3 separate regions of the Homo sapiens genome follow, and all the other regions are linked to region 3. The links come from fine-mapping of genetic effects on gene expression. A gene starts in region 3. Each other region holds a variant in brackets. All regions are shown on one strand. Distances are from middle to middle. Region 1 overlaps LINC02188 (long intergenic non-protein coding RNA 2188). Region 2 has its middle 34 kb from the start of LINC02189. Region 3 holds the start of LINC02188 (long intergenic non-protein coding RNA 2188).

Evidence for each region. PIP is the estimated chance that this variant, and not a neighbour inherited with it, causes the effect.
Region 1: its variant is fine-mapped to the expression of LINC02188 in testis (GTEx, PIP 0.98).
Region 2: its variant is fine-mapped to the expression of LINC02188 in aorta (GTEx, PIP 0.97).

What each region holds. Positions count from the first base shown.
Region 1 is chr16:86,733,929-86,744,240 of GRCh38, reverse strand. LINC02188 (long intergenic non-protein coding RNA 2188) reads right to left here. Exons shown (of 3, transcript NR_135183.1): 2 at 9,332-9,415; 3 at 6,415-6,831. Among named protein-coding and RNA genes, the nearest start is that of LINC02188, 17 kb to the right of the region's middle. RefSeq lists an enhancer at 1,208-1,954. The variant G/C (reference allele first, on the strand shown) is at 4,362.
Region 2 is chr16:86,682,409-86,692,720 of GRCh38, reverse strand. No RefSeq gene overlaps it. Among named protein-coding and RNA genes, the nearest start is that of LINC02189, 34 kb to the left of the region's middle. The variant G/C (reference allele first, on the strand shown) is at 6,256.
Region 3 is chr16:86,715,991-86,726,302 of GRCh38, reverse strand. LINC02188 (long intergenic non-protein coding RNA 2188) reads right to left here and starts at 4,212. Exons shown (of 3, transcript NR_135183.1): 1 at 4,172-4,212. It overlaps LINC02189 (long intergenic non-protein coding RNA 2189), which reads left to right and starts at 4,344. Exons shown (of 2, transcript NR_135181.1): 1 at 4,344-4,538; 2 at 5,300-5,619.

The DNA.
Region 1 (10,312 bases), 18 kb before region 3:
CCTTTCCTTCCTAGGCATGGTTAGCACAGTCAGAATTCTTACACAAGAGCCAGGACCACACCCTGTAGCCTTTCTGTCCGAACAACTTGACCTTACTGTTTTAGCCTAGCCCTCATGTCTGCGTGCAGCGGCTGCCGCTGCTTTAATACTTTTAGAGGCCCTCAAAATCACAAACTATGCTCAACTCACTCTCTACAGTTCTCATAACTTCCAAAATCTATTCTTTTCCTCATACCTGACACGTATACTTTCTGCTCCCCGGCTCCTTCAGCTGTACTCACTCTTTGTTGAGTCTCCCACAATTACCGTTGTTCCTGGCCCAGACTTCAATCCGGCCTCCCACATTATTCCTGATACCACACCTGACCCCCATGACTGTATCTCTCTGATCCACCTGACATTCACCCCATTTCCCCAAATTTCCTTCCTTCCTGTTCCTCACCCTGATCACGCTTGATTTACTGATGGCGGTTCCACCAGGCCTAATCGCCACACACCAGCAAAGGCAGGTTATGCTATAGTACAAGCCACTAGCCAGCCTCTTAGAACCTCTCATTTCTTTTCCATCGTGGAAATCTATCCTCAAGAAAATAACTTCTCAGTGTTCCATCTGCTATTCTATTACTCCTCAGGGATTATTCAGGCCCCCTCCCTTCCCTACACATCAAGCTCGAGGATTTGCCCCACCCAGGACTGGCAAATTAGCTTTACTCAACATGCCCTGAGTCAGATAACTAAAATACCTCTTAGTCTAGGGAGATGCTTTCACTGGATAGGTAGAGGCCTTTCCTACAGGGTCTGAGAAGGCCATCGCAGTCATTTCTTCCATTCTGTCAGACATAATTCCTCAGTTTAGCCTTCCCACCTCAATACAGTCTGACAACAGATGAGCCTTTATTAGTCAAATCAGCCAAGCAGTTTTTCAGGCTCTTAGTATTCAGTGAAACCTTTATATCCCTTACGGTCCTCCGTCTTCAAGAAAAGTAGAATGGACTAAAGGTCTTTTAAAAACACACCTCACCAAGCTCAGCCACCAACTTAAAAAGGACTGGACAATACTTTTACCACTTTCCCTTCTCAGAATTCAGGCCTGTCCTCGGAATGCTACAGGGTACCGCCCATTTAAGCTCCTGTATAGACGCTCCTTTTTATTAGGCCCCAGTCTCATTCCAGACACCAGACCAACTTAGACTGTGCCCCAAAAAAACTTGTCATCCCTACTATCTTCTGTCTAGCCATACTCCTATTCACCGTTCTCAACTACTCATACATGCCCTGCTCTTGTTTACACTGCCGGTTTACACTGTTTCTTCAAGCCATCACAGCTGATATCTCCTGGTGCTATCCCCAAACTGCCACTCTTAACTCTTGAAGTAAATAAATAATCTTTGCTGGCAGGACTATGCTGAATCTCCTTAGGCGCTCTCTAATCAGATGTCCTGAGACATCCCAATTCTTAGACCTTTTATACCTGTTTTTCTCCTTCTCTTATTCCATTTAGTTTCTCAATTCATCCAAAACCGTATCCAGGCCATCACCAATCATTCTATACGACAAATGTTTCTTCTAACATCCCCACAGTATCACCCCTTACCACAAGACCTCCCTTCAGCTTAATCTCTCCCACTCTAGGTTCCCACGCCGCCCCTAATCCTGCTTGAAGCAGCCCTGAGAAACATCGCCCGTTCTCTCTCCATACCACCCCCCAAAAATTTTCACCGCCCCAACACTTCAACACTATTTTGTTTTATTTGTCTTATTAAGAAGGCAGGAATGTCAGGCCTCTGAGCCCAAGCCAAGCCATCGCATCCCCTGTGACCTGCACGTATATATACGCCCAGATGGCCTGAAGTAACTAAAGAATCACAAAAGAAGTGAATATGCCCTGCCCCACCTTAACTGATGACATTCCACCACAAAAGAAGTGTAAATGGCCGGTCCTTGCCTTAACTGATGACATTACCTTGGGAAAGTCCTTTTCCTGGCTCATCCTTGCTCCAAAAGCACCCCCACTGAGCATCTTGCGACCCCGACTCCTGCCCGCCAGAGAACAAACCCCCTTTGTAATTTTCCTTTACCTACCCAAATCCTATAAAACGGCCCCACCCTTATCTCCCTTCGCTGACTCTTTTCGGACTCAGCCCACCTGCACCCAGGTGAAATAAACAGCTTTATTGCTCACACAAAGCCTGTTGTGTGGTCTCCTCACACGGACGCGCATGGAAGTGATCTTTGCTATTCTGGGTTTGTCTGCTGGAGGAAGAGGGAAATCACCTATTTGATTTTGTATTCATTCATGTCCTGTTCCTGGAGAATCTCTGTTGTGTGTCAGGCACAGCTGAGCCTCCCTGTATAGCCTCCTCTATCTTCCACCTACAGAGGAGGAAATGGAGCCTCAGAATCAGTGCCTTTCTTGTTTGTAAGAAACAGCTATGAATGCCTAGCTCCCCCTCGAATTTCAGTACTGCGTCCCACCATGCCGCACGGTGCCGATGAGCCGGCTGGACCTTCATGGCAATGGTGGCCCTCTAAAAATAGGATCCCCCACCCGGAGGAATGGGGCCACCACAGGAAGCAGCTCAGACCACTTCCAGGGGACATTCTTCTGCCTCCAGTAAGCTGAGGATAGAAGTGGAGCCGCTGACGGATGAATGGACTGTTTGCCTGAGTCATAAATCAACAGGGACCAGCCCTGCCTCTGAACGATTCTGGTCTCTACACTTCGCTCCTGATCACAGGCTGCAGAGGAAGCACGTCTCCCAGGCTGGGGCCGGCATCCGATCCAACGCTGCCTTTCCCTCTAGCAGCGGCTCCCGCAGGGAGGGTCTCCCTGTCCCTAGAACCGGAGCGTGAAAGTCAGCAAAGTCCCATAAATCACAGGAAATGAACTTCTGCCTCTTTAAATTCCTGCCGCCGTCCCCATCCCTCCCACAGCCACAAATAGATTTCTTTCAATATTGGCTCTGACCTCAGCCCTCCCCGCCCCCACGTCTCCTTCTCCACGTTTTTTTTTTTTTTTTTTCCCAGCAAACCCTACAAGGCAGAACTTACCCTGCTGACCTCACCAGCGTGGTTTCTTCTGTTGTGTGTGTGTTTTTGTTTTGCTGTGATGCCGATGACTTGCGGTTTGCCTCACACTTTGTAGTGTGCGTGGCAGTCGTATAAGAAAACAGCAAATTTGTCAGTTAGGCTTGTTATTTATTACAGGAACCATGGGGATGCCAGGCAGCCAGGCTGGCCCCTCCGCCCGCCACCTACCCCACGGTTGAAGGGGCTGCACTGGCCGGGGATGCCAGACCAAGGGCCCAGAGAAGAGGCACGGCTTCCGAGGGTGAGGAACAGCGAGGTCCTGGCAGCTGCCTCTCTTCGAACACAATGTTGAGGAGATGCTTTTTGTTTTTGTTTTTAAAATTCATTTCCATTGGTTTTTGGGGAACAGGTGGGGTTTGATTACGTAAGTTCTTTGGTGGTGATTTGTGAGATTTTGGCGCACCCATCACCCGAGCAGTATCCACTGCACCTAATTCGTAGTCATTTATCCCTCACCCTCTTCCCACCCTTCCCCACCGAGTCCCCAGAGTCCACTGTATCCTTCTCAAGCCTTTGCATGGGAGGATGCTTTTAACTGGTAAAAGGCAATAGTAGAAGTAACAGCCCGAGGGCTCTCCGTGGCCAGTGCCTCCCGAGATCTCGAGGGCACCCCTTCTCCCGCCTCCCCTCCCACCTCCACCTAGGCCACACGGGCCATGCCGGCCCCAGAGCTCCCGTGCCACGGGCAAAACACAGCTGTGTCTCAAAACCCTACGCCCAAAGTGCCTTCTCCCAGGCTTCCTTCCAGCTCATCCGCCACCTTTCTCTGCACTTGGCCCAGACGTCGTCTTTCAAGTCCGGCCTCCCCTAGACCTCGGCTTCTAAAATTGCAAAGCACCCGCACTCCAACAGGCCTCCGTGCCTGGCTCTCCTCTACACCTTCGTCCCCACCTGCGTTACTGATCTCTGTGACTTACTGGCTTCTTCCCCCGAGGAGGGCATGAGCTGCACGACAATGGCTTTGTATCTGTGAGAAGCTCTAATCGTATTTGCTGTTTATTGTGGGCTGGGTTGCATCCCCCCAAACTCACACGTCGAAGTCCAACCCCCAGGATGTCATAATGTGACTGTGTTTGGAGATAGGGCATTTATGGAGGTAATTAAGGTAGAATGAGGTCACCAGCATGGGAGCTAATCCAGTAGGACTGGTGTCTCCGTAATAAGAGGAGATGAGGACACAGACACGCACGGAGGGCGACCTTGTGAGGACACAGAGAGAAGACAGCTCTTACAAGCCAAAAAGAGAGGGCTTGGAGGAAGCAGTCCTGCCG[G/C]CACCTTGATCTCAGACTTCCGGCTTCCAGAACTGTTAGAAAATAAATCTCTGTCATTTAAGCCACCCGGTCTGTGGCACTTTATGTTCAATAAATACCTATCAGATGAATAAATGAATCAATGAGCCAGGTGTGGTGGTCCACGCTTGTAATCCAAGCACTTTGGGAGGCTGAGGTGGGCGGATTACCTGAGGTCAGGAGTTCGAGACCAGCCTGGCCAACTTGGGGAAACCCCCACCTCTACTAAAAATACAAAAATCAGCTGGATGTAGTGGCGAGAGCCTGTAATCCCAGCTACTCAGGAGGCTGAGGCAGGAGAATTGCTTGAACCTGGGACGCAGAGGTTGCAGTGAGCTGAGATTGTGCCACTGTACTCCAGCCTGAACAACAGAGTGAGACTGTCAAAAAGAGAGAGAGAGAAAGAAAGATTGAGAGAAGAAAGATAGAAAGAAAGGAAAGAAAGAAAGGTAAAGAGAAAGAAAAGAAAGAGAGAAAGAGAAAGAAAGAAGAGAGAGAGGAAGGAAGGAAGGAAGAAAGGAAGGAAGGAAACTAGAACTTATCAGACACTTCACAAGTGGGGAACCGTTCCTAGCTGAGGCTTGGTGGACTTGGGAGGATATTAGTAATGCAGATGTTTTGCTCCTAAGACTCCAAGACTGTTTTGCTCCTTCATTCTTTGCACACAATTCCGTGGCCATTCTACTCATTTTTTTGAGGATAAATGATCTCAGTGGTGAAATATTGTCATGGGTGAGCAGCGACTATCTGGGGCCAGCGGCTCAGGGTAAAGACAATTGTAGGTTAAGAAAGGCAGATTTAGGCCAGGTGCAGTGGCTCATGCCTGTAATCCCAACACTTTGGGAGGCCGAGGCAGGCGGATCAGGAGGTCCTTGAGGTAAGGCCATCCTGGCCAACATGGTGAAAACCCGTCTCTACGAAAAATACAAAAATTAGATGGACGTGGTGAAACGCACCTGTAGTCCCAGCTACTTGGGAGGCTGAGGCAAAATTTCATCTCAAAAATAAAAAAAAAAGGCAAATTAGAGAAAGTAGGAAAATACACAGCAAGGAGGCAACAGGCAGGCCAGCAAGAGAGGAGCTGACTGCAAGGAGACAAAGGCTTGCTGGGGACTTGATAGGATGGTGCTTGTGCTGTGTGCTGGAGAGAGCGACGTGCAGTACTGACAACACCGAGGCCGCGGTGTGCTGGAGAGAGCGACGTGCAGTGCTGACGACGCCGAGGCCGCGGTGTGCTGGAGAGAGCGACGTGCAGTGCTGATGACGCTGAGGCCGCGGTGTGCTGGAGAGAGCGACGTGCAGTGCTGACGACGCCGAGGCCGCGGTGTGCTGGAGAGAGCGACGTGCAGTGCTGATGACGCCGAGGCCGCGGTGTGCTGGAGAGAGTGACGTGCAGTACTGACGACACCGAGGCTGCAGTGTGCTAACTTGCATTTTTCTATCAGCCAAGGGTCTAATGACAGCTGGACACAGGAAGATTGTGAGTTACTTGTGCAGCAGGACTACGTGTTCTGGATCACGAAGACAGGCAGACTTGGAGCTTCTCTGCCTTCTCTTTTTGCTTTCCCTGGGTCCTGCCAGCCTGACTCCTCATTCCTAATTAGGACTCCGGGAATCTCAACCAGCCATCAAGTGTTAGATTCTGAGCACCTGTGCAGGGCTGCAGGTGACAGTCGATAATGAGGCTCATCTTCCTCACCGCCGTGTCTTTCTAACCGTTTGGCCTTCTTCTGATGGTGGCTGCAACCTCATCAATGGCCAGCATGGAACTAACCCATTGGGTTATGTTTTCATTCCTGTTTTTCTTTACTTTGCTTAAGCAGGAAGTGCAACTGGATCGGGGAGCCTCTCCGGGGCTCTTTTTAATTCATCTCTGCGATTCTTCAAATGGTAGGTTGTTAAACCATGAAGCCAACAGACACCTGGCTGCTTACTGGATTCAAGGCACTGGGATGCTTCACTGAAAATGCCAGTTCAGGGCCCCTCCTCTCCAGGAGCCAAAATTCTGGAGTGGGGCTGGGAGACCAGAAAGAAACAAATTAAACCAGCACTCACCGCTAAAAACAAGCATTGCAAGCAGTAGTGCAATTAGATCAAAACACACAAATCAAAGATGGCTCAAGGGCTTTCCAGTGTTGAGAAGGGCTGGACCCCGCTGTTTGTGAGAACTCAGGTTTGCAACATCTGTCCTGAAGGAGGCTCTGGACACCAGGAGAGGTGAGGTGACCCTCAGTCCAGGCGGAGACGGGGAAAATGAAGCAAAGGTGTTTACCAGAACATACAAATAAGTCTGCAGTTTCCACGGCTTTGTCTGTCTGCCTGAGAGGCTCCCATTGTATGGCCTCCTAATATGCTTGTTCTTCTCAATTCAGCCATTCAGGGGTCCTTCAATCGATCTGTCTGTCACAGGGGTGATCTCTGGGAAGCACCCTCCTCTGCAGCACCTTCAGACCTGCATGTACAAAAGCCAGGAGTGAACCACTGCTCACCGCACACAGGGCTTTGCCGTGAAGCTGGACTCACAGTGCTCAGAGTGAAGTGAGAATGGAGAACAAACACGTGCATGACTGTTTTAGGAAACTTTAGGCCTGAAACAGGTCCCTGAAACAACAGAGAAACTGTGGGTTTCCTTCTCCTCTCCCCACCACCCCCTGCATGCGGCAGACACACAGGCATGCGTCTGTTTACTTGCATGAATGCATGTCTGTATCTTGACCAAAAGTTAAGTCATATCTGAAGTCTTAGCCCAAGTTTTCCACAGGGCCATGGGCACTCGGGGACAAATTTAGCCTCTAGTAAAAGAGCAAAGTCTTCTGAGGCCAAACATTAAGCCACCATTTACCCAAGGACTGTATGGAGCTGGAAGTGAATACCACATTGTCTCAAACTGTGGACTCATGTCTTTGGTGTGAAGTTTCCTGGTTTCAACTACCTCTAATGATATCCTTCCAGATGGAAGGCTAAGCCAACTTGATTTGGACCACATGTCACAGATGCTGGTATGTGACATGGTTTGAGAAGGCTCAATCTGCCCATTGATTGAGAGTGTTTTTAGGGACTCATATCACACAGGCCCTGGTAACCATTCTCCACCCACCTCCTCTGTGCCGCCGTAGGGAGGCTGCAGCCAGTAATTATGGGCTCAGCCACGGCTGGCTCTCACCCAGATGTTTACAGTCTCAGGGAGGCTGGATCCCAAATCCAGAGTGGTCACTGCAGACAGCAGAAGTAAGGAAGGCTCCAGCCTGATTGCCTGGGCTTCTGGATCCACGCTCGTCGATGGAGCTTTTGTTCCCTCATGGGGCAGACAGTCCAACAAGTGGAGAAAACGGTGGGATTTTAGCTTCCTCCTGCCTTCCAGGCATGAAATGACCCAGGAGCATTTTAGGGCACTATCCAGTAGGATCATGGTGTTGGGTGTCGTTTAAGGCTTCAGGGTATAGGGGGCCATCTAACGGAAGGACAGCTCTAGAGCTGTCAGGGTGGGCTGGGGCTGGGGCTGGCCAGGTCCCTCCAGGATGGCAGGCCTTCAACTAGTCTCCTTGAGAAGGCCAAGGTTGGAAATAAAGCCTAGTCCCTGAAAACAAGGGGGAGAAGGTGGCATCTGTGTTGACACCACCCTTGAATTTCCATTTGTAATATAACTTTTGTTTGTATCCATTAAGTCAACTGCCAAGGTTTGAATGTTTGTCCTCTCCCAAACTCCTGTTGAAACTTAATCCCCATGGTGACAGTAAGAGGATAGGAAATCTGCCTCTGCTATTGGAGAGTTGGAAGCTTTGGGATGTGATTAGGATTAGATGAGGTCGTGAGGGTGGGAAGGAGCAGCTTTCCAAGGGGAGAAAGGGAGGGCTTGACTTGCAGGCTCAGCCTCCTCACTCTGAGATGCCTGCACCCCCATGAGACCTTGCAGAGTCCCCACCAACAGGAAGGCTCTCACCAGATGCCGCCCCTTCTGGAGACTTCCCAGCTTCCAGAACTGTAAGAAGTAAGTTCCTGCACCCCCATGGGACCTTGCAGAGAGTCCCCACCAGCAGGAAGGCCCTCACCAGATGCTGCCCCTTCTGGAGACCTCCCAGTCTCCAGAACTATAAGAAATAAATTCCTTTCCATTGTAAATTACCCTGTCTCAGGTGTTCTGTTATAGCAACAGAAAACAGACCAAGACATCAACTTAATAAACAAATTTCATTTTACCTGATCGTTTAAAAGTTTAGAGAATCCCTTTTCGTGGTGTTTCTCGCTATTCCTTTTTGTACTTTTAACCAATTTTTGCTTCTTACAAAAATGGTAAAGCATGTTATTTGGGTATGTTATTTGGGGCATAAATATTTGTGATGGGTGCTTTGTCATTTTTTCTCCCTGGGTACGCACATTATTATTTTTTTATCCTGAATTTCTAGAAGTGCAATAGGACTGTCATATTATCTGTTGAGTCTGGAGCCATGTGTGATGTTACCACATGTGGCCTTGAGCCTCTCTCAGCCTCCAGCCCATAGTAAAATGCAATCATTACTCAAGGAACGAAGAAATACATGCACATCCAAGAGAAGGAACAGCCTCAGAAGTTTGGATTTCCGCGTTTGTGGGTTCTGAGTCAGGCCAGGGGAGTCAGTCACTTCCACTCCCTCACTTAGCAACTGCGTGACCTTGAGGACCATGGTCTACCTCTCAGCGTCCCTCAGGTGTCCACAGGACATTCACTGAGGCTGCTGGGCTGTTGTGAGAACTGTCCTGTTCAGGGCTCTGCACAGAACCGGGCACAGGAGCCGTCCGACGCCGTGTGCTACGTGCCTGTGCCCGGGTCTCTCTGCCCCAAACAAGGATCTGGGTCACAGCCTGTGGATTCCCTATCTGCTCACTGCACACTCCCCCACACACCCAACCTTAATACATTTTCTGAATTAATAAGCAAGGCCGTCAAGTTCTCTCCTCTTCCCCACGTCCCTTACCTGTAAGGAGGAAACACTGACCAGCTTTGGTGCTGCCCCTGTTGTCGGGCCTGGGAGCAGTGGCTGCTGTCTCACCAGCAATCTCTAATGGATACAGAGAAAAGAGTTACTGATTGACCTTTTTTTTTTTTCCTGCTTTGCAATCTCACTAAAGCATTTCCTTTCCCTACCCCCATGCAGGAAGGCGAGAGCAGCATTATTCAGTTTCCAAAGTCTGAGCTCTCCTCACACCCGCAGGACTGGGGCCTGCAGCCAGTGGGGGTGGGGGAGGGCGGTTAACACTTGCAGTGCCCCGGGGGTGGGTGACCTGTGCGCTCTCTCTCTCTCCCACGGAAACACGGAGGCCTGAAAGACGGCAGAACCGCACAGGGGCAGGACACACACGGACGCGGGGGGACGCAGGAAGAGAGTTACCAGATAAAATAGGGATGCCTTTTTAGTATAAGTATATCCCATGCAATATTTGAATTTCAGATAAATAATTTTAATATCTACATCTCATGCAATATTTGAACTTCAGGTAAAAATGAATAGTTTTTAGTATGTCTTGTAATATTTGAATTTCAGATTTAAAAAAGAACTATTTTAGCATAGAATAGGTCCTGTAGAAGTAAAAAAAACTTTTTCATTGTTATTATGGGTTGAATAGCGTCCACCAAGAAGTTCATGCCCACCCGGAACTTTAGAAGGTGACTCCATATGGAAATAGGTTCTTTGCAGTGGTAAATAGTTAAGACGAAGTCATATTGGAGCAGGACGGGCCCTAAGTCCAGTGACTGGTGTCCTCATACCAATGAGGTGAAGACAGAGGAGGAGAGACGCGCAGGGAGGAGCCCGCGTGAGGGCGGAGGCAGAGACTGGAGCGATGCAGCCACGAACCAAGGGACGCCTGGAGCCCCCAGGAGCAGGAAGAGGCCGGAAGGGTCCTGGATCCTCCTGGGGGAGCCCCGCCCTGACACCTTGACGTTGGCCTTCCGGCCT
Region 2 (10,312 bases), 34 kb after region 3:
CGCCTGGAAGCCCATCAAAGTGTCAGCTCAGCCTGGAGTCCCCGGTTAAGGAGCGAGGCATTTACACCATTTGCTAGGAGTGCAGGAAATACAGGAGTGACATTTCCATCAGTTTTCTTCCCCAAGCGAGAAAAGAGCGGCAGGGGCGAGAAAGAAAGAAAGCAACCGCGTCCAAGGCTTGGCTGCATCCCAATGCCTTTGACACCTAGGCTTTTATTGGAACTGCTACTTCCAAAATAAAGAAACTAGTGACTTCAGGGTATATTTTGCCTCCGTTTTTGAGGATGTCTTGGGCCTTTCATCTCCTCTGAAGGCGTGTCCCCTAATTATGCCCCTTTCATCCTTGTGTTGCTCAAGCAGAACATGCCAGTCTGCTCTACAGCCATTGATTATGACTGAGGGCTTTCCACGTTCCAGCTGCTGCCGAGAGCCTGGGTATTTGTGAATACCTGAATAAACTCCTTTAATCCAAAAACAAACTCCTCCTGAAAGAAACTGCCTGAAAAGGCCTTTCATAGAGTGTTTCCCAACTCACTGGTTCATGGTTTCTTTGGATTTCACTGTGCTTCCTGAACTAATGGTCTCTGAATGCATTCCCAACTGTGGCTTCCTGGTCTACCGAGGTCCCCAGCACGAGGTCCCTGGCATTAAAGGAGAAGAAGGAAAAAAGTAACACAGCAGATGCTTATAGGAGTTGCCAGGACTGGATGGGTTGAAACTGAAAGGAAATACATGTGGGTGAGAGTGTTACGTTGTTTCGACAATTTTTATAAGAAATGCTTCCCCAGGTAGTGCTTTAAAAACAAAGTTACAATCACACAGGACACACATGTGGGGTGTAGCTTCTGCTAGATGGAAAGCAGATTGCTTGAATTAGCACTGGAAGACCTTAACTACAGAACCTGATGACTCTCTTCTAATTGACAGATTTGCTTTAAGATTCACAACTTGAATTGGAAAAAACATCTGTGTTATTGAGATTACAGTGGGAGCACTAAGAAAGCCCAGAATTGACTTGGGAACTTCCCAATGGCCAGCTGATATGTTCAGATTGGAGCCCTGGACTTGGAGTTGCCAGATTCTAGGGTGAGAAATGGCATGTTCACGTCCTAGCCTTGTAAACCTCAGCTCATTACTTCCCTGCTTTGCCTCTGTATCCTGATCTCCAAAATGAAGGGGCTAGGTGAGACCAGGGGAACTTTCCTCCAACAAATCGAATTCCTCTCACCTGAGCAAGTAGGGAGGGAGGGAGGGAGGCTACCAGAACCCCCACCATGAAGATTCTCACCCTGCCCTCTCCCTGCCTTCCAGGGATCCCTGGCATGGTCTAGTTTGGTTACTATTGCTACGTAACCAATTACCCCAGAAATCAGTGCTATCAAACGATTGCCCTTTTACTTTGTTTACGATTTGGTGGGCTGGGATTTAGAGAGGGATTGACTGGGCAATCATCACTTGGAGTCTCTCAAGAGAGTGCAGCCAGGTGTTGGCTTGGACTGCAGGCAGCTGGAGGCTTGACAGGCCGCATGTGTGTCCAAGGTGTCTTGCTCACGTGGCTGGTGTTGATGCAGGGGCTGTCAGCCAATGCATCCACATGTGGCCTCTCCAGCATGGCGGTCTCAGGGTTGTCAGATTTCTTACTTGGTGGCTGGCTTCCTCCAGAGCAAGAGTTTCCAGAGAACCAGGTGGAAGACATGTGGCCCATGTGACCTAGTCACAGGAGTCACACAGCCTTACTTTCACCACATTCTATCGATGGTCAAAGGGCCACCAAATTCAACCACAGGGAACACAGATCTCCCTCTCAGTAACAGGTGAGGCAAGACCATGTTGTGGGAGAGCCTACAGGCATCAGGGTATGATTGCGGACATCTTTGCAAATCATAGTCCACCTCAGGTTCCAAGAAACACAGTTGGAAAACAACGAGGTTAGACGGTCTCTAACGTCTCTTTCTGTTAGAAAAGCAAAAAACTCTAAAAGGGCAACATTTACTTGTCCAGACTCTTTCTTTTTTAAAGAGCTTTACTCCTTTGGGAGGCCGAGGTGGGCGGATCACGAGGTCAGGAGATTGAGACCATCCTGGCTAACACAGTGAAACCCTGTGTCTACTAAAAATACAAAAAATTAGCCTGGCGCAGTGGCGGGCGCCTGTAGTCCCAGCTACTAGGGAGGCTGAGGCAGGAGAATGGCATGAATCCAGGAGGTGGAGCTTGCAGTGAGTCGAGATCGCGTCACTGCACTCCAGCCTGGGCAAGAGAGCGAGACTCCATCTTAAAATAAATAAATAAATAAATAAATAATAAATAAATAAATTAATTAAATAAATAAATAAATAAAAATAAAGAGCTTTACTGGAGTGTGCAGGCCTCCCTTGTTTTATTATGCATTTAAGTGCTTTACTGTCTGTGTTTCTTACAAACTGAGGGTTTGTGGAGACCTTGCATGGAGCAAGTCTATCAGCGCCATTTTCCCAACAGTACGTGCTTATGTCATGGCTCTGTCACATTTGAGTAATTCTCACAGTATTTCAAACCGTTTCATTATGATTACTTCTGTTATGGTGATCTGCGATCGGTGAGCTTCGTCACTATTGTAATTGTTCTGGGGCACCATGAACCATGCCCCTATAAGACAGTGAACTTAATCAATAAATGGCTTGTGTGTTCTAACTGTATCACTGGCTCTTCCCCCATCTCTCTCCCTATCCTTGGGCCTCTCTATTCACTGCAACATAATAATATTGAAATTAGGTCAAGGAATCATCCTACAGTGGCCTGTAAGTGTTTGAGTGAAAGGAAGAGTCACAGGTCTCACTTTACACCGAGAGCTGAAACGATTAAGCTTAGTGAGGAAGCCATGTCAGAAGCCAAGGTACGCTGAAACTAGGCCTCTTGCACCAAACAGTTGGTCAAGTTGTGCATGCAAAGTAAAAGCTTTTGAAGGAAATTAAAAGTGCTACTCCAGTGAACACATGAATGATAAAAAAGTGAAATAGCCTTACTGCTGATATGGTGAAAGGTTTACGGTCTGAATAAAAGATCAAACTAACTACAACATTGCCTTGAGCCAAAGCCTAATCTGGAGCAAGGCCCTAACTCTCTTCAATTCTGTGAAGGCTGGTGACGTTCAGTGTTTTTTCATGTGCTTATTTACCATCGGTGTAATCTCTTCAGTGAAATGTTTCGTCATGTCTTTTGCCTAATTGGATCGTTTGGTTTAACTGAGTCTTGACAGTTCTTTATATATTCTGGATACTAGTCCTTTTTCAGATATGTTGTTTGCAAATATTTTCTCTCACTCTGTGGATCTTCTTTTTATCCTTAGAAAAGTATCTTTCAAGAGCAAAAGTTTTTAATTCTGATGCAGTTGAATTTATCAATCTTTTTCTTTTGTGGATTGTGCTATTGGTGTTAAGTCTTAAGACCTTTTTGCCTAGGCCTATATTCCTAAGACATTTTTCCCGAAAGTTTCATAGTTTTGTATTTTACATTTAAGTTCATTATACATTTTGAATTGATTTTTGTATAAGATGTGAACCTTACATAGATGTTGATTTTATTGCCTATGTGCTATTCTCTGGCACTGTTTGTTGAAAAGTCTCTTTTTTTCTCCATTGAATTGCATCTTTGTTAAAAATCAGTTGGGCATATTGGTGTGGTTCTATTTCTGAGTCTCTATTCTGTTCCACTGACATATGTCTATCCTTCCACCATTATCACTGCCTTCTTGATTACTGTAGCTATGTAGTCACCCTTGACATTGGGGAGACTGATTCTTCTCACTTTATTCTTCTTTTTTTCAAAATTATTTGAACTTACCTAGTTTCTTTCCATTTTCAAATAAATTTTAGAATAACCCTGTCCATCTGTTAAAAAATTCTGCCGTTATTTTGATATTAATTGCATTAAACTTGTATATCAATTTGAAGAGAATTGACCTCTTTACTATGTTGAGTCTTTCAATCCCTGAATGCAGTATATCACTCCATTTATTAAGACCTTCTTTGATTTCCTTCATCAACATTGTATATTTTTCAGCATACAAGGTATGTGTTTTGTTACGTTTACTACATCGTTTGAGCAATTATAAGTGGAATTGTATTTTTAATTTTGGTGTTTATTATTCTGGCTAGAACCTATAGCACTACACTGAATAAGAGTAGGGAGAGTGGACATTCTTGCTGTGTTCTCAATCTTAGGGGGAAAACATTTAGTCTTCCACAACTAAGTATAATGTTATCTGTAGCTTTTTGTAGTTGCATTTTGTCAAGTCAGGAAGTTTCTCCCCTATTTCTATTTTTCTGAGCTTTTTTTAAAATCACAAACGGATGTTGAATTTTATCAATGCTGTTTTTTGCATTGATTAATGTGAATATGTGATTTTTCTTCTTTAACTTGTCAGTAGGGTGGATTATGTTCAATACTCATAATTTTTGAGTATTGAAACATGCCTGCATCCTTGGAATTAATCCTACTTGGTTATGGTGTATAATTCTTCTTATATATTACTGAATTCTGTTTGCCGATATATACTCAAGAATGTTTGCCTCTACATTCACGGGGAATATTAGACTAAAATTTTATTGCCTTTGTCTGGTTTCTGTATTAGTGTAATACTAGCTTCACAGAATGAACTGCAAAGTATCCCCATCTCATGTATTTCTCAGAAGAGACTGTATAAAATTGGTGTTAATTCTTGTTTAAACATTTGGTAGAATTCTCCAGTAAAGCCATATGAACAAGATTTCTTTTGTGGTAATTTAAAAATTATTAATTTAATTTTTAAAGTACTTATAGGACTATTGAAATTATCTATTTCATACTGGGTGAGTTGTGACTGTGTTTTTCAAAATGAGGGGGATGTCCTTCTATTCCTTGTTTTCTCAGACTTTTTTAAATTAGGAATGAATGTTGGGTTTTGTCAGATGCTTTTCCTGCCACTATTAGATTATCATGATTTTCTTTTTTCTCTCTTTTCTTTTTTCTTTTCTTTTCTTTTCTTTTCTTTCTTTCTTTTTTCTTTCATGGAGTGTCACTCTGTCGCCCAGGCTGGAGTGCAGTGGAACAATCTCGGTTCACTGCAACCTCCGCCTCCCTAGTTCAAGTGATTCTTCTGCTCAGCCTCCCAAGTAGCTGGGATTACAGGCATGTGCCACCACGCCCAGCTAATTTTTGTATTTTTAGTAGAGACAGGGTTTCACCATGTTGGCCAGGCTGGTCTCAAACTCCTGACCTCAAGTGATCCGCCTGCCTCGGCCTCCCAAAGTGCTGGGATTCAGGCATGAGCCACCGCACCCAGCCATGATTTTCTTGTTTAGTTTGTCACGATGATGAATTACATTGATTGATTTTCAAATAAACTAATCTTGCATTCTTGGGACTCACTTACATGTGATGCATTATCCTTTGTTGGGTTTGATTTCCTAAAATTTTATTTAGAATTGTTGCTTCTTTGTTCATGAGGAATATGGCCCTGTGGTTTTCTTGTCTTGTAATTGCTTTGTCTGACTTTGGTATTAGGATAATGCTGACCTCATTAAATGAATGAGAAAGTGCTCTCCCCTTTTTGGTTTTCTGGAAAAGTTTATGTAAACTTGGAATCGTTAGTCTCCTTAAAGCCTGGGTAGAATTCATCAGTGAAGCCATATGGACCTGGAGTGTTCTTGGTGAGAAGGTTTCTAACTACAAATATAGTTACTTTCATAGATAGGACTGTTCAGGTTATCCATTTTTTCATGAGTTAACTTAGTAGTTTGTGCCTTTCAAGCAATTTGTCCACTTTCCCCAAGTTGTCTGTAAGATCTGCAGTGATGTCAAGAATCTCGGGCCGGGCGCGGTGGCTCACGCCTGTAATCCCAGCACTTTGGGAGGCCGAGGCGGGCGGATCACGAGGTCAGGAGATCGAGACCATCCCGGCTAAAACGGTGAAACCCCGTCTCTACTAAAAATACAAAAAATTAGCCGGGCGTAGTGGCGGGCGCCTGTAGTCCCAGCTACTTGGGAGGCTGAGGCAGGAGAATGGCATGAACCCGGGAGGCGGAGCTTGCAGTGAGCCGAGATCCCGCCACTGCACTCCAGCCTGGGCGACAGAGCGAGACTCCGTCTCAAAAAAAAAAAAAAAAAAAAAAAAAGAATCTCATCCCTGGCCAGGCTTGGTGGCTCATGCCTGTAATCCCAGCACTTAGGGAGGCCGAGGCGGGCGGATCACAAGGTCAGGAGATCGAGACCATCCTGGCCAACATGGTGAAACCCTGT[G/C]TCTACTAAAAATACAAAAAATTAGCTGGGCATGGTGGCATGTGCCTTTAGTCCCAGCTACTTGGGAGGCTGAGGTCAGAGAATCGCTTGAACCTGGGAGGCGGAGGTTGCAGTGAGTCGAGATCACGCCACTGCACTCCACCCTGGCGATGGAGCGAGACTCCGTTAAAAAAAAAAAGAAAAGAAAAGAAAAAAAAACTCTTCCCTAATAATTGGTAATTTGTGCCTTTTCTCCCCTTTCCTGATCAACCTGGTTAGATGTTTATCCATTGTATTGATCTTCTCAAAGAAGCAACTTTTGGGTTCATTGTTTTTTTGTTTGTTTGTTTGTTTTTGTTTTGTTTTTTGAGAGGGAGTCTCACTCTGTTGCCTAGGCTGGAGTGCAATGGTGCGACCTTAGCTCACTGCAATCTCTGCTTCCCCGGTTCAAGCGATTCTCCTTCCCCAGCCTCCCAAGTAGCTGGAATTACAGGTGCCTGCCACCACGCCCGGCTATTTTGTTTGTTTGTTTGTTTTTGTATTTTTAGTAGAGACAGGCTTTCACCACGTTGGCCAGGCTGGTCTCAAACTCCTGACCTCAAGCGATCCGCCTGCCTCAGCCTCCCAAAGTGCTGGGATTACAGGAGTGAGCCACTACACCTGGCCCATTGGTTTTGTCTAGTGTGTTCTTGGTCAGAATCTCCCTGGAAACAAAGGACACTCGCTCTTCCTCCTTTCCTCTTGTCTAAGGAATTCTCTAAGAGAACTAGCTCACTTGAACCTTGTCGAAGGCTAACCTTCAAAATAAATCCACCTACCAACTCTTGTTTTTCTCAAAACTCTCAGCCAAGTACCACAGTTTCATGTCACAAATAATTTTTTCGAAGGTGCAGCATTCTGATCACATTCTGCAGAGAAAACGGATGTGTAGCTTTTGAAATATTCTGCCCCTTACAGAAAAGCTTCAGTGACAGAGATGTGATAATATGGGATGTCCATTTAGTGACAGGGATATTCTTGAGCCGGCTCTGGTTTTTGCTAACATGTGACCTGGAGCAAGTGACTAACAATCTCTAAGCCTCAGTTTTCTTCTCTCCAAAATGGGAATAATAATGGGGTTGTTGAAAGACCCACTTTGATGATGAATGCAAAACCTCAGTGCAGAATCTGGATGTGGTAAGCATTCCATTAGCAGTGGCTATTAAAATATGATAGCAAGGGTTATGGTCTGGGATTCCACTCCCTTTACTACTGGAAAGGAAGGATTTATGGTCTTCCTTTTCTTCTGTTGATGTTGGAGCCAACATTTATTGGTTGTAAATGTTAAAAATATAAACCTGTGGTGGAAATCCACGGACTGTGCATTTCATCCCATTATGGACTAGTCTATGGTCACACCTGGTCAAGCACCAAAGTTTATATTTCCAACACCCAAAATACACTTTAGTTATAACAAATATTTCTTCAGGAAGTTTGACAACTCTGCAGCCATGTCTCAGGAAGAATATGGATCCCGGGAATTTGCCCAAACTGGCCTTCCTGGGTGTGCAGTTGTATTCTCATAGCTGGGGAGGACCGGCCCAGGGGGCGGGGGTCCAGCAGGCCCAGTTGTGGTGAGGAGGCCTCTGAGGCCATGCCAGCTGGCCCGCTCCATGAAAGAGCATCTCACTGCCTCTCAGGGAAGCAGGTGGACGTGAAGCCCTGCTGGAGACGGGGAGAGTGGGGGGTGTGAGAAGCTGTGGGAAGGGGAGGGCTGATGAGCATGATATGGGGTGGGGCCGAGCTGGGGAGAATGTAAAACCCATAGCACCTTCTGTGACCTTCCTGCCATGGAGAGGGGCAGCCCCACCCCTACCCCACTGTACAGGGCGAGGCTCTGCAGCTGCATCCTGAGTGGGGCATGACAGACATGCTGCTGTGTGACCTCCCAGGTGGGCTAGGAGAGGCCAGGCCACCTCTGCCCAAGTTTCTTGGGACACTCACTCTGGGAGCCTCCCACTGCCACAATAGACATCCAATCACCCTATGGCATATATATATATATACACACACACACACACACACACACACACACACATATATACACACACACACACACATACACACACACATATATATACACATATATATACACACATATATATATACACACATATATATACATATAGAGAGAGAGAGAGAAAGAGAGAGAGAGAAACAGAGACACAGAGAGAGAAACAGAAATGGAGAGAGAGACAAAAAGAGATAGAGAAAGGGACAAGAAAGATGGACGGAGAGAGAAAAAAAGATGGAGAGAGAGAAAGAGAAATGGAGAGAGACACACAGAGAGATGTAGAGAGAGAGACAAACACAGAGAGAGAAAGAGGCAGACAGAGATGGAGAGAGAGACAAAGAAAGATAGAGAGAGGGACAAGAGAGAAATGGAGGGAGACACAGAAAGATGGAGAGAGAAACAGAGAGATGTGGAGGGAGAGACAGAAACACACAGAGAGAGAACGAGGCAGGGAGAGATGAAGAGAGAGACAGAGAGATGGAGAGAGAGACATAGAGAGAGGGACAAGAGAGAAATGGAGGGAGACACAGAAAGACGAAGAGAGAGGCAAAGAGAGATGTGGAGGGAGGAAGAGACAGGTAGGGAGAGGCAGATGGAGAGGTGGAGAGAGGGAGGAAGAGGGAGAGGTGGAGACAGGTGGGGAGAGGAAGATGGAGAGAGAACCTCCAGCAGCTGCAACACCGGCCATTTTGGGTCTTCCCAGCTGGGCTCCAGCCTTGTGAGGGAAGAACCCGAGAGATGCCCCAGCCTGGCACGTCTCACTGCCCTGGCCTGAGGACCCTGAGGGAGAAGTGCTGGCTGAGTCCAGTCAACCCCAAGACTTATGAACAAAATCAAAGAAGGCTGTGGATTTTCTTACCACGTGGGGGACAGAGGGAGCCAGTTGTCACCCAGTGAGAGGGAGCTGGAATGTAAGCCATGGCCTGGCCGGAGCTGCTTAATCTCTCTGGGTATCTGGGTCTCCATCAGTCAAATCGGAGTCATGGTGCAGATTTCTGAGAGCTGCCGTGAGAATCCAGTCAAATAGCAAGCGCAGGGTCCCCTGGGGTGCCCGCCTCCACGTGGGCACAGTGCACGGCCCCACCCGACAGTCTTCCTCCACAGCCTCCCAGCACACTCCACCTTTCCACAGACTTGGTTTCACTTCCTTTTGCTTATCACTGCATGGAACGGTCTTCCTCCCTCCCTCCCTCCTTCCTCTCTCCCTCCCTCCTTCCTTCCCTCTTTCCTCCCTCTCTCCTTCCTTCCTTCCTCCCTTCCCTCCCTCCCTCCCTTCCTTCCTTTCTTCTCTCCCTCCCTTGTTTCCCTCCTTCCTTCTTTTCCTTCTCCCCTCCTTCCTTCTTTTCTTCCTTCCCTCCTCCTCCCTCTCTTTGCTTCATTCATTGATTGTTCCCTCTCTCTCACCCTCCCACATAACACACTCAAGGAAAGGAACTTGGTCGTGTTCACTGTCCTCTGCCCTGCAGTGGGGCCTGGCACCCCACGGATGTGCTATACGTTTTTGTCAAATAGTTGAGCCATGGCTCTCCTGGGATGAGCATGGGTAGGAGGAAGGGACATACACGTGCCCAGGACCTGCTGGAGACTTGAGCAATGCAGCCTCTCCCTTTGGGAAGGCCCCTGCATGTGGTGGAGGGCAGGGATGTTTGGAAGGCACTGACCTGGCTCCCGGCTGCCAGGGCCAGCCTGGTGCTGGAACCCCTCATACCTGAAGAGGCACAGGAGAACCAAAGGCGGAGAGGCCTGCATCCTTCAGGGCGGCTGGATGGGTGTTCCGGGTGCGTGCCACAGTCCAGCAGAGTCTTACTTTCTCATGGTTCTGGAGGCTAAAAGTCCAAATTCAACTGTTGCTGGGTTTGGTCCTTTCCAGGTGCTCCTGTGGTCATATGTTCTGCGCCTCTGTCCCGCTGCTGGGGGCTCCAGCCAACCTTGGTGCTCTTTGGCTGGTAGCTGTGTCACTCCAGCCTCTGCCTCTGTCTCCCCACGGCCTGCTCTGTCCCGTGTCTGCGTCATCTTCTCTGACTG
Region 3 (10,312 bases):
GGAGAGGATAAGATAGTGGTACCCATGTTGTGGGGCTGCATGGAGGCTGAGTGAGCATAGTGAGAATTTGGACATGAAATGCTGAGCACGGTGTTGGGCACATGCTGCTGTCCATCACCTGTTCACACTCATCATCTTCACTATCACTTAGCACCCCCAGCACACACACCCCTACCTACAAGCCCTGTTGTAATCCCTGCTTTCAGATGAGGAAACTGAGGCTCAGGGTGGCACAGCTTTTCAGCAGATGGAACAGAGCCTTAGCCCTCCAGGCAGTCTGACGTTACACCCAGAACCTTAATCTCTGCCTTAGTCCAGCGTGATGGGGCTGAGGGTGCTGTGCTGAGACTACAGAGCCCCAGGTTCAAGTTCCAGCCTTAGACAGCCTTGAGCAACTCACCTTACCCACCACCCCATGCCTCAGTTTCCTCGTGCATAAAATTGGGAGCTCTTTTAGGCAATGTTAAGACTTCTCCTAGCTCTAACAATACGCAAGCCCAAAGAGGGCTGTGCACATTATGGCCTTTGTTTTCCAGATTCGAATGTGCCCCCCAGATCTCCACGCCGTGCAATTTCTCGGACAAACCAACTCACGTCTTCTTATTGGTCCCATGCACCCGTGGGATCAGCAGATGTAACATTCTGACATCACACTTAGAAAACTTCCCCCATCTGGATTTCTGCAACCCACAGGGAGTCATTTGCCAAACATATGTTTTACAAAACATGGGCCCACTGCACTCTGACTGGTTGTGGAGTCGATACAACCCACCTTTTCCCCAAGCACATGACTCTGGCCCATGCATGCTGTCTGGCTGGGGAGAGAGATGCAAGACTACTCATGTCAGGAGCGCAGGGTGGCAGGAAACGTGCAAGGTCACACATTGCTAAAAATGTAGGCGAGTAACGTGGTGGTAACAGACACACAACGGGGGTCAGTGTACAGTGGAGAAGAATTCTAGTGTCAGGCCAACTATTGCTGTCAGGAAGAGCATTGAGAAGCGTTTCCACATATCACCGCTCACTTTTCCAGATGACATTCAAGAGAGGAAGAGGCAGCGGACATCACTGGCCAGTGAAGTTAGGAGGCTTCGGAGGCTCCAGAGTCATGACAGATGTTTTGAACCTTGTAGCCAAACCCCTCCACGCAGAAGTTAAAATGCCCACTTTCTCTGGAGCACAACTTTTTAAAAAATTGTTTTTTTTTTATATTGTAGTAAAATATACGTAACAAAATTTACCACAATAACCACTTTCAAGCGTGTAGTTCTGTGGTGTTGACTGTATTCATACTATTGTACAACCATCACCACCATCCACCTCCAGAACTTTTTCATCTTCCTAAGCTGAAACGCTGTCCCCACTAAATTATAACTCCCCATCTCCACCCCATAAGTCCCTGGCAATCACCCTTCTACTATCTTTTTCTTTTTGTTTTTCTTTTTTTTTTTTTTTTTTTTTTGAGATGAAGTTTTACTCTTGTTGCCCAGGCTGGAGTGCAATGGCACGATCTTGGCTCACTGCAACCTCTGCCTCCTGGGTTCAAACAGTTCTCCTGTCTCAGCCTCCTGAGTAACTGGGATGACTGGCGCATGCCACCACGCCCAGCTAATTTTTGTATTTTTAATAGAGACGAGGTTTCATCATGTTGGCCTGGCTGGTCTCAAACTTCTGACCACAGGAGATCCACCTGCCTCGGCCTCCCAAAGGGCTGGGATTACAGGCGTGAGCCGCTGCGTCCGGTGCCTTCTACTTTCCGTCTCTATGATTCTGCCTACTCTAGGTGCTTTATCAAAGTGGAATCACACAGTGTTTGTCTTTGGTGACTGTCTCTTTTGCAGAATGTCCCCAAGCTTCATCCATGTTGTAGCAGGTGCCCACCCTTCATTCCTTGTTAAAGCTGAATAATCCTCCATTACTTGGATGCACCATTTTCTTTCTTCATTCATTCACTGATGGACACGTGGGTTGCTTCCACCTTTTGGCTATTGTCAATAATGCTGCAGCGATTCCCAGGCTGGCTGAGTAATTGGTAGTCTACAAAGCTGCTTGGCACAGCGTCCCCAATCTATAGAGAGTAGTTGTGGGTTCAAAGAAAACCCACAAGACTTTAGAGCCAAAATACATCTGGTTTCCAATGTTTGACTGGCCAGCTGCAACTTTAGGCAAATTTAATCCTCCTGAGCCTCACGCTGCTCATCACCAAACTGGGAATTACAGTAGACAGCACTGGTCGCTGTCCCAGCATCCACACTACCTCCTACATCCTAAGCGAATTCTGATTTCTTTTTTCAACTTTCTTCCACGCCCAGGTGATCTCAAGGGGCTGAGACATTCATAGTTCCAGGGATGGGGCAAGTCCCGCCCCCTTGGCAATGATTGGTTCAGACACCCAGGCTTCAGCTAATCGGTTTCTAGCAGTGCCTTAGCAACTGTTGCTAGTGTTAAGCCCTTGATCTGAGTGGCCCAATCAGGTAGAGGATGGGCTTTTATTCCAAGTTGGAGAAATGACGCTCCTCGGAGCTAGGAAATGAACAAGAGTTTCTGCAGCTGCTGATGCTGCCACCATCCCGCAACAACGAGGGAAAGAGCATGAGAACGAAGCCCAGGCACAGAAGAAAGGCAGCCATAAAAGTGTCAGAAAAACGGAGCCGGAGCCTGATTATCCTCCTCATCTTGGTACACACTCACACTCACACACTCCCTATGTCTGCGGACTGACAGTCAGAATATTCAAGCAAAACAGATCTCCTTAAATGGCAGTGACCTTACCTGAAATTTAACAGGCCTGAATTTACCGGTCTAAGGTCAACCAGGAAGGCTGTGTGCCTTCAAGCCCACCACTCAAAGACGCCAACCAATTCACCTGTCTCCTGTATGATTCTGGGTTCACACACATGGGTGCACAGACTCCCCCGAACACACACACACACACACACACACACACACGCACCTGCACGCATGCACACACACAATTAGGTTCAGAAATTAAACCTCAAAGTAATAGTAGGCCTCAATTATCCTACATAGCTGTGAAACAGATAGCCTGTTAGCTAGTCACTGGAGTACTGCTTGAAATAGAGATTTATTGCACAAAAAGCAGCACATACAAAAGTTTCTATGATCAGTATTACGGCTGATTGTGAAATAAGACATCATTGGAAGTGCACCAAAAATGAATAATGCAGGGACTGAACAGAGAAGCTGAGTGAAGAGAAGCCAGATAAAGAAGGAACACATATTTTTTCAGCCCACAGCTTCACCCATTTTCAGCGAAGCAAGGATTTCCCTTAGGGTGAAGGGAGAATCCTAGGTCTTTCTATTCCATTTCCGGGCATGACCAGACACCAAAATCATGACAGAGTAAGCTTGAAAAGAAAGACTTCGTGAAGACTGTTGGTCAAGACACAACCGGGGAACAGAAACATCTCGGCATGTACAGGAGAAGGAGTTTAATCCAGGAAGGAGATTGTGGCAGGTGGAGGGTCAGAAAAGCCACTGCAGTGTCAAACCACACACAGCGAATTATTCATTCAGATCTCATGACAAGAAAACTTGGTGTCTTTGTCTACCTGGGCTGCTGTAACAAAATATCATCCACTGGGCAGCCCATGCACAACAGAGATTTATCTCTGACGGTTCTGGAGGCTGGGGTGTCCAAGATCAAGGCCCTGGCCACTTCAGTGTCTGGTGAAGGTCACTTCCTGACTCATAGATGGCACCTTCTCGAGAGTCCATATATGCTGGAAGGGGCAAGGGGCCTCTCTGGGGCGTTTTTTATTATTTTATTTTTATTTATTTAATTTTTTGAGATGGGGTTTCAGTCTTATTGCCCTGGTTGGAGTGCAATGGCATGGTCTCCACTCACTGCAATCTCTGCCTCCCGGGTTCAAGCGATTTTCCTGCCTCCGCCTCCCAAGTAGCTGGGATTACAGGCGCCCGCCACCATGCCCGGCTCATTTCTGGATTTTTAGTAGAGATGGGGTTTCATCATGTTGGTCAGACTGGTCTAAAACTCCTGACCTCAGGTGATCCGCCCACATTGGCTTCCCAAAGTGCTGGGATTACAGGTGTGAGCCACCGTGCCCGGGCTTGGGGCTCTTTCATAAGGGCACTATTCCCATGCATGAGGGTTCTACCTCACAAACCACTCACCTCCCGAAGACCTCACCTTTTGATAGCATCACATTGTAGGTGAGAATTTCAATATTCAAATTTGAGGGAGACACACACATTTGGACCATAGCACACAGTTGGGTCATAAAGCCAGGGTTCCGAGGCAAGTCTGAGGTCATCAGCCAAGGGTGTCTGCATCGGACAACACTCAACTCGGGATTGGCACCCAGCCAGTGCCCTACACTATACAAGATGCCACTGTAGGGACAGGGATGACCTCTAGCAAGGTGACCCTCAGTGGGCCAGAGGGGGCTTCTGAAGAGAATTTCTCTAGCTTCTTGGTGTTTCCTGCCTGCTACTTTCAAACAAGGGTCCCATTTTTAATGTTTTCCCAGTAATACCTTATGAATGTTATTGCAAAGGTAAAGGAAATTATATTTTTGCTCTTATTGTTGTTCACTCTACTCCCATTTAGCAATTAACATTGAAAGGTAAGAAAACCAAGAGAAAGAGAGAGATTGCAATGTGGATATAGACGCAGATGTATAGAAATATATACATAGTAGAAATAAAAAAGGGTTGGCTATGGAGAAGGATACACAGATAGAGATAGCAAGACAGTTGGATAGACAGACAGGTTTTTTTTTTTTCTTAATAATAGGAACCAGAGGATGATCAGGAGGGTGAGGAAAAGAAAAAGATGAAAGCCCTGTCTAAGATGCCCACAAGTTCTCTAGTTTGCATTTGTTCCCTTGGTGAGCAGAAGGGTGCAAGTCCTCTCTTACTGTGATGTGAGGAACCTATATCATCCCAGGGCACAAGAGGGTGAAGTTGGCCATCTGTGCCCTTCTCTGCCTTGTACCCTAGGCACGCCCCTCCTGTAGATCCCAGTTTCTCTTTCTGCCAAAAAGGGGGCAGACCTGGTGAGTAGCTAAAGTTCCTTCCGGCCTGAAGGCCCCTCAAAGGTTTTCTCCTGTGCCTTCCCCACAGCCCGGGTCTGCACTCTACTGGGATTTGCTGGGCTAGATTCTCAGAGGAGCTCAACATTGATTGAGTTCCTCGCTCCACGTTAAATCTTTGGAAAATTAACTAAAGATCTCCTAGTAAGATGCTTGTAACTTACTACATAAGGTGAAATAGTGACTTTACAGTACAAAAACTATAACCCAAGTATTACCACCAGCAGCGGGCTAAATCAACACCACAGGCCCCGTGATCAATATATGTGATGAGGACATTACATCCTGGTGTTGTTGCCCCAAGTCTTGACGTGAATCTGACCACAAGGACAATTCGGACAACCTGAAATGGTGACGCATTCTACAAAATAAACATCAATGTCATGAAAGACAAAGACTCAAGATTTTCTGCTTAATGGAGACTAAAGAGATGCGACAACAGAATGCCAGGCATGATCTTGGATATTCTTTTGGCTCAAACAGTCTTAGGACAATTGAAAAAACGTGAATGAGGTCTGTAGCTAATAGAATTGTGTCAATGCCACATCCTTGGTTTTGTTAATTGCATTGTGGTTACAGAAGAGAATCCCTTTGTTTTCAGGAAATGCACACAGCAGTATTTAATAGTAAAGGCACATCTTGTCTGCAACTTCCTCTCTGTGTGTGTGTGTGTGTGTGTGTGAGAGAGAGAGAGAGAGAGAGATGCAACAAATATGGTAAATATTAATTTTGGGGACTCTGGGTGAAGGGTATCTTGAGATTTTTGTGCTCCTCTTCTGCACATCTGAAATCATGTCAAAAAATAAAAAAGGTGTGCACTCTGCAAGGGATACCCAGATACCCATGCAGAAGAGAGAACTGATTCAAGAGATGAACCCAGGTGGGAGCCACGATGATGCCCACTGGGGAATGAGCCTGTAAATCCAGGAGAGGCTGCACCTGCAGCCCATTCCTCCAGGGTGGTTCTCCTAGACCTGCTTCAAGTGTCATGGTTTAAATTCTCAGGCACCCCTTGGGCCATACTGACATTTCTATTGGCTTTGGGCTAGGAGGAGCTAATATGCCTTGCACATGATGATAGCTTGGAGAATGTAAAAATGCTGAGCTGTTATCACACCTAATGACATGATACCTGCAAAGACGTAGTGTGTGCATGGAACAGCGTAATGGAGTCCTACAGCCTTAAGCCAGGATTTCATGTGTGATACACAGTAGTCATGGCTGAAATCTTTCTCCAGTGTGGCTGCTCCCTCCTCATTGAACACAAAGCAAGTTATACAATTCAGTTTTAGCAAATGTCTTGTGAGATGCGCTAGCACAATCTTAAAGATCATGTGTGGGTAAAAAGAACAACCTCCACCCATACCAAGCATTTTCAGTGCCAGGCCCTACCTGAAACACAACCGTGATCTCCATTTGAGCCAGGAAAACCCGAACCATGGGGAGCCGCAGAGCCCGCCCCCCACCCAGTGACTCTCCGGTGTGTCAGTGCCAGGGTCTGAAGGTACTGAGGCTTTGCAGGCATCATCTCAAGCCAGCAGGGTCTGAAGCTACTGAGGATCTGCCAGCAACATCTCAAGACGGCATGGTAGCTCCTTCCCAGCACGCCACGCTGCCCTGCACCCACTGCTAGCTTCTGTCTATACTGCACTTGGCACTGAGAGCAATCCGATCAGAGGCAGCATGCGATTGCTTTGTTCCATTTTCCCAAGGCCCACTCACAGGGCCTGTAGGTACCTGCACGGTCCAGGTCCAGGTCCGTCATTGTTCAATCGAGCCACCATGAATTGGAACAACTGCATCTTTCAATCGCGTCCTCCAATTTGCCCAGAGCCATCCGAGCACAGATTCAGAACTGGATCTTTGCCTCTCTCAACAAAGTACACTAGGGGACTGAAGCATCCAACTCAAGTGTAGTGTTTTAAATAAGGAAGAAGAACTTAAATTCACCCACTGACCCATTTCCACAATCGTCAAAGTCACATGGCTTTATCGGTATTGTCATTTCTGTGTGAAACTTAGCTCTTACATGCTTAAAAAATAAGAATAATTGTTCAGATATGCTTGGGAACCAAAGAAAGAACAGAACTACTGTTTTCCCCACATTGTCAAACTCAAACAAACACCTGTGACAGATGAGCACCGCCTACTGAGGTCGCAGTTCACCTTTCTGCACAAGAGCTGGTGGCTTTGTTCTCTGTCTGGAAGGACTTTCTGTCTCCCTGTGCTGCGTGTCCTCTGGCCTCTTGGGCCCATCCTTCGACGCCAAACTCAAGGGACATATTCAGCCTTCATCTTTGGAGGGATGCCCAGGGACAGATGTGTCCACGGGACCCCCAGCACACAGACTGACCTTTCGGGGCTTACCCTTCAAAGGTGTCGTGTCATTTCCCTGTGCCCTGACCTCCACGCTGAGTTCCCTCTTTCCTTACTGGCCGTGGCATTGCATGGGTATAAGTGATTGTATGTAAGACAGTTATAGGATTTGTTTTCTGATAATCCCTGAGTTTTATATTTCTGCCAAAAGTTATAAGTGAGCAATCTTATATATACATCTGCCAGCTCAAATGGACACAATGTAGGCACAGGCATCTTGTGTTGAGAGGCATAATGGGGCCATCCCCGGGGTCTGCAGGGAAGCAGGCAGCAATTGATGAGGGGCATTCGTCCTGGGACGAAGGAAGGCGAGAAGCAGCCAGTATTTCCTGTTCTTGATACAATGTTACCCTGCCGCAAGGGTGGAAAATCCCACGTTTAAACCTGAAACTGATTGTTCCTGGCCAGCAGCCACTCCCACATCCCCAAACCAGGGGGGTGACTTACAGCAGTGCAGTGACCTGCCTGAATCACTCGAGCTCTTGCTGAAACGCAGGTTCTGAACCAGGGCCTCCAGGGCGGGGCCTGAGACTCTCCATTTATAACCAGCTCCCGGGTGATGTCTGAGGACCACGCCTTGGGTAGTGAGGACCTAGAGTGAGTGAATGAAGAGAACTTACACAACAGCCCAGCACATTCTAATGAGAAAGGTGACACCACCTACCCCTCTATCATTCACGAGCTTAGGACAGCTGGGTACCTCGTGGCCATCCTCAGTCAGCCCCACCTCTCAGGCCAGGGCCTGCTGTCTTTGATGAAACCCCTCTGTCCCTCCCACGCCTTTGCGCCTGTTATTCTCCAGCCCACCCTAAGTCCCCCATGAGGTGCTGGATGTCTCAGGCTTGGATCTCCTCATCACTGCCTCTCTTCTTCCTCAGTACCCTGGGAGCTGCCCACGTGGGCTCTCAGTGGCCCCTGCTCTCTGGCTTCTGGCAGGGGATCGCCCAGGCAAGGCAGGCGGCGACATCCCCCTCCTCAAATGGCACTTGTGTCTCCCGGAGAACTGTGAAGTGCAGGAGGCAGGGGGCCTGGGGAAGGGCCAGTGCCTGGTGAAGGAGGGCCGCTGCTATTATTTCTTAGAACTTTTTGTTACTTTTATTAAATCTGGAGGTTCCAGCTCAGTTCCCTCCTCCATGAAGCCCTCCTGGCTTAGCTCGACCTCCCTTAGTATCTTTCTCCTTTGAATGCACTCAGGGAATAACTTAGGCCCTTATTTTGAGCCATCTTCCTTCTTTTTGCTTAGTTGCCTCCAAGGCTCAGTATGGTCCCCTCGACACGACAAGAAGCTTCGATTCACTCACAGTAAACTTTTGCCAATGAGGAAAACCACAAAACACACCTGAAACTCAAATAACTCAAAAATGGTTTGAAAACAGTCTGTTTCTCTACGTCTCTCCCAGTGTTGGTAATACGTGTTTGGGGAAAGTGTCTAAAAATAATGAAATACTTTTTAAAATCTACTTTTAAAAGAAGCTTTATCGAGATATAACTCAAGTACCACACAATTCACCCATTTAAAGTGGACAATTCAGTGGGTTTTAGTATATTCACAGAACTGGACAACCCTCAACACAGTCCATTTTGGAACATTTTTATCAATTCAGAAAGAATCTGTGTACCTGTTAACAGTCACCCTTCCTCATCCTGCTGTTTTGAGCCTGTATTTAAAACACGAGGCAGGAAAAGACCATTTTACCGATGTAAAGCCCAGGACATATTTTTTGTTTACATTGTCTTTGAGGCTTATCCCTTTTTAAAAATTCACTGGCTAAGTTTCAGGAGAATCAAATCAATGGCATGAAAACCTACCTGTTTTGCAGAACATCCCAGGTCACCTGCCTCCTTGCACACCTGAGGGTTGAAGGAGGCCATGGCACCGTGGCATCCGCCACCCCATCTGGCTTTCCCACGCCTCTGGCCTCACCCCTGTCGGAGGTGAGAGCTGGTTCCTGCCAGTCTAGAAGGAGCTTTAAGCTCTGCCTCCTATGTTGTAACAGAGCCCGGGAAGGAAGCTTCCACTTGTGAGCCAACTGCAGGCTTGACGGACTCAAAAGGGTGGTGTGGAAACAAAGAAAACACTGTATGTTGAAGATGGTCAAGACAATCACAATGCTGCCATTTATTGAATATTTGCAGAGTGTCTGGCATACTGCTAAGAACATTACATGCATATCTGGTTTAATCCTCACGACGACCTTCGGAGGTGGATCTTATTAGTTTGCCTGAGTTTACTGCTAAGGAAGCTTAAAGGAAGAGCTCTAGTAACTGCCTGGAGGGTCTTCCCTGATCTTCCCATCAGTCTAATGATCTGTTTGGATAGAAGGAGGGATCAGTCTGAACTGGATGGCCTTCTGAAGTCTTCAAAGCTCTCAAATCTGAGAATTCTGAATTCTACAAAATCTGAATCATAGGACGCCCTTTGAATAAAAGCGCTGGATCCTTTTAACCCCAAAAAGAAGGGAGATGTGCATGTGGGGGGTGTGGAGAGAGCCTATTTTTAATGTAAGTCAGGAATGTCTGCTATGTGTGGATGACATGAGGGCTCTCAACCTCTGGGAGCCTGTCCCCAGGTCAGCCTTGGTGAGTCTGGCCCCAGCTATGGGTGCCTACCTGGGTTTTCACCTGTTCTGAGGTTTACTGTCCCCCACCTGCAAGCATGAGGCCCAGAAGCTGCCATCAGCCTTTGGTCTCTGGTACAGGCCCTTAGCTGTGAACTCACATTATTAATGTTAAAGACATTGATGTGACTAGCAGTGGTGTCCCATGTGACCATTCAAGATTCCCAGTGGCTGGAGACAGGACTCCAGATGTGGCAAGGGTGACAGGAACCCCTTTCTTCACTTTTAAATGGAGTGAGCCAA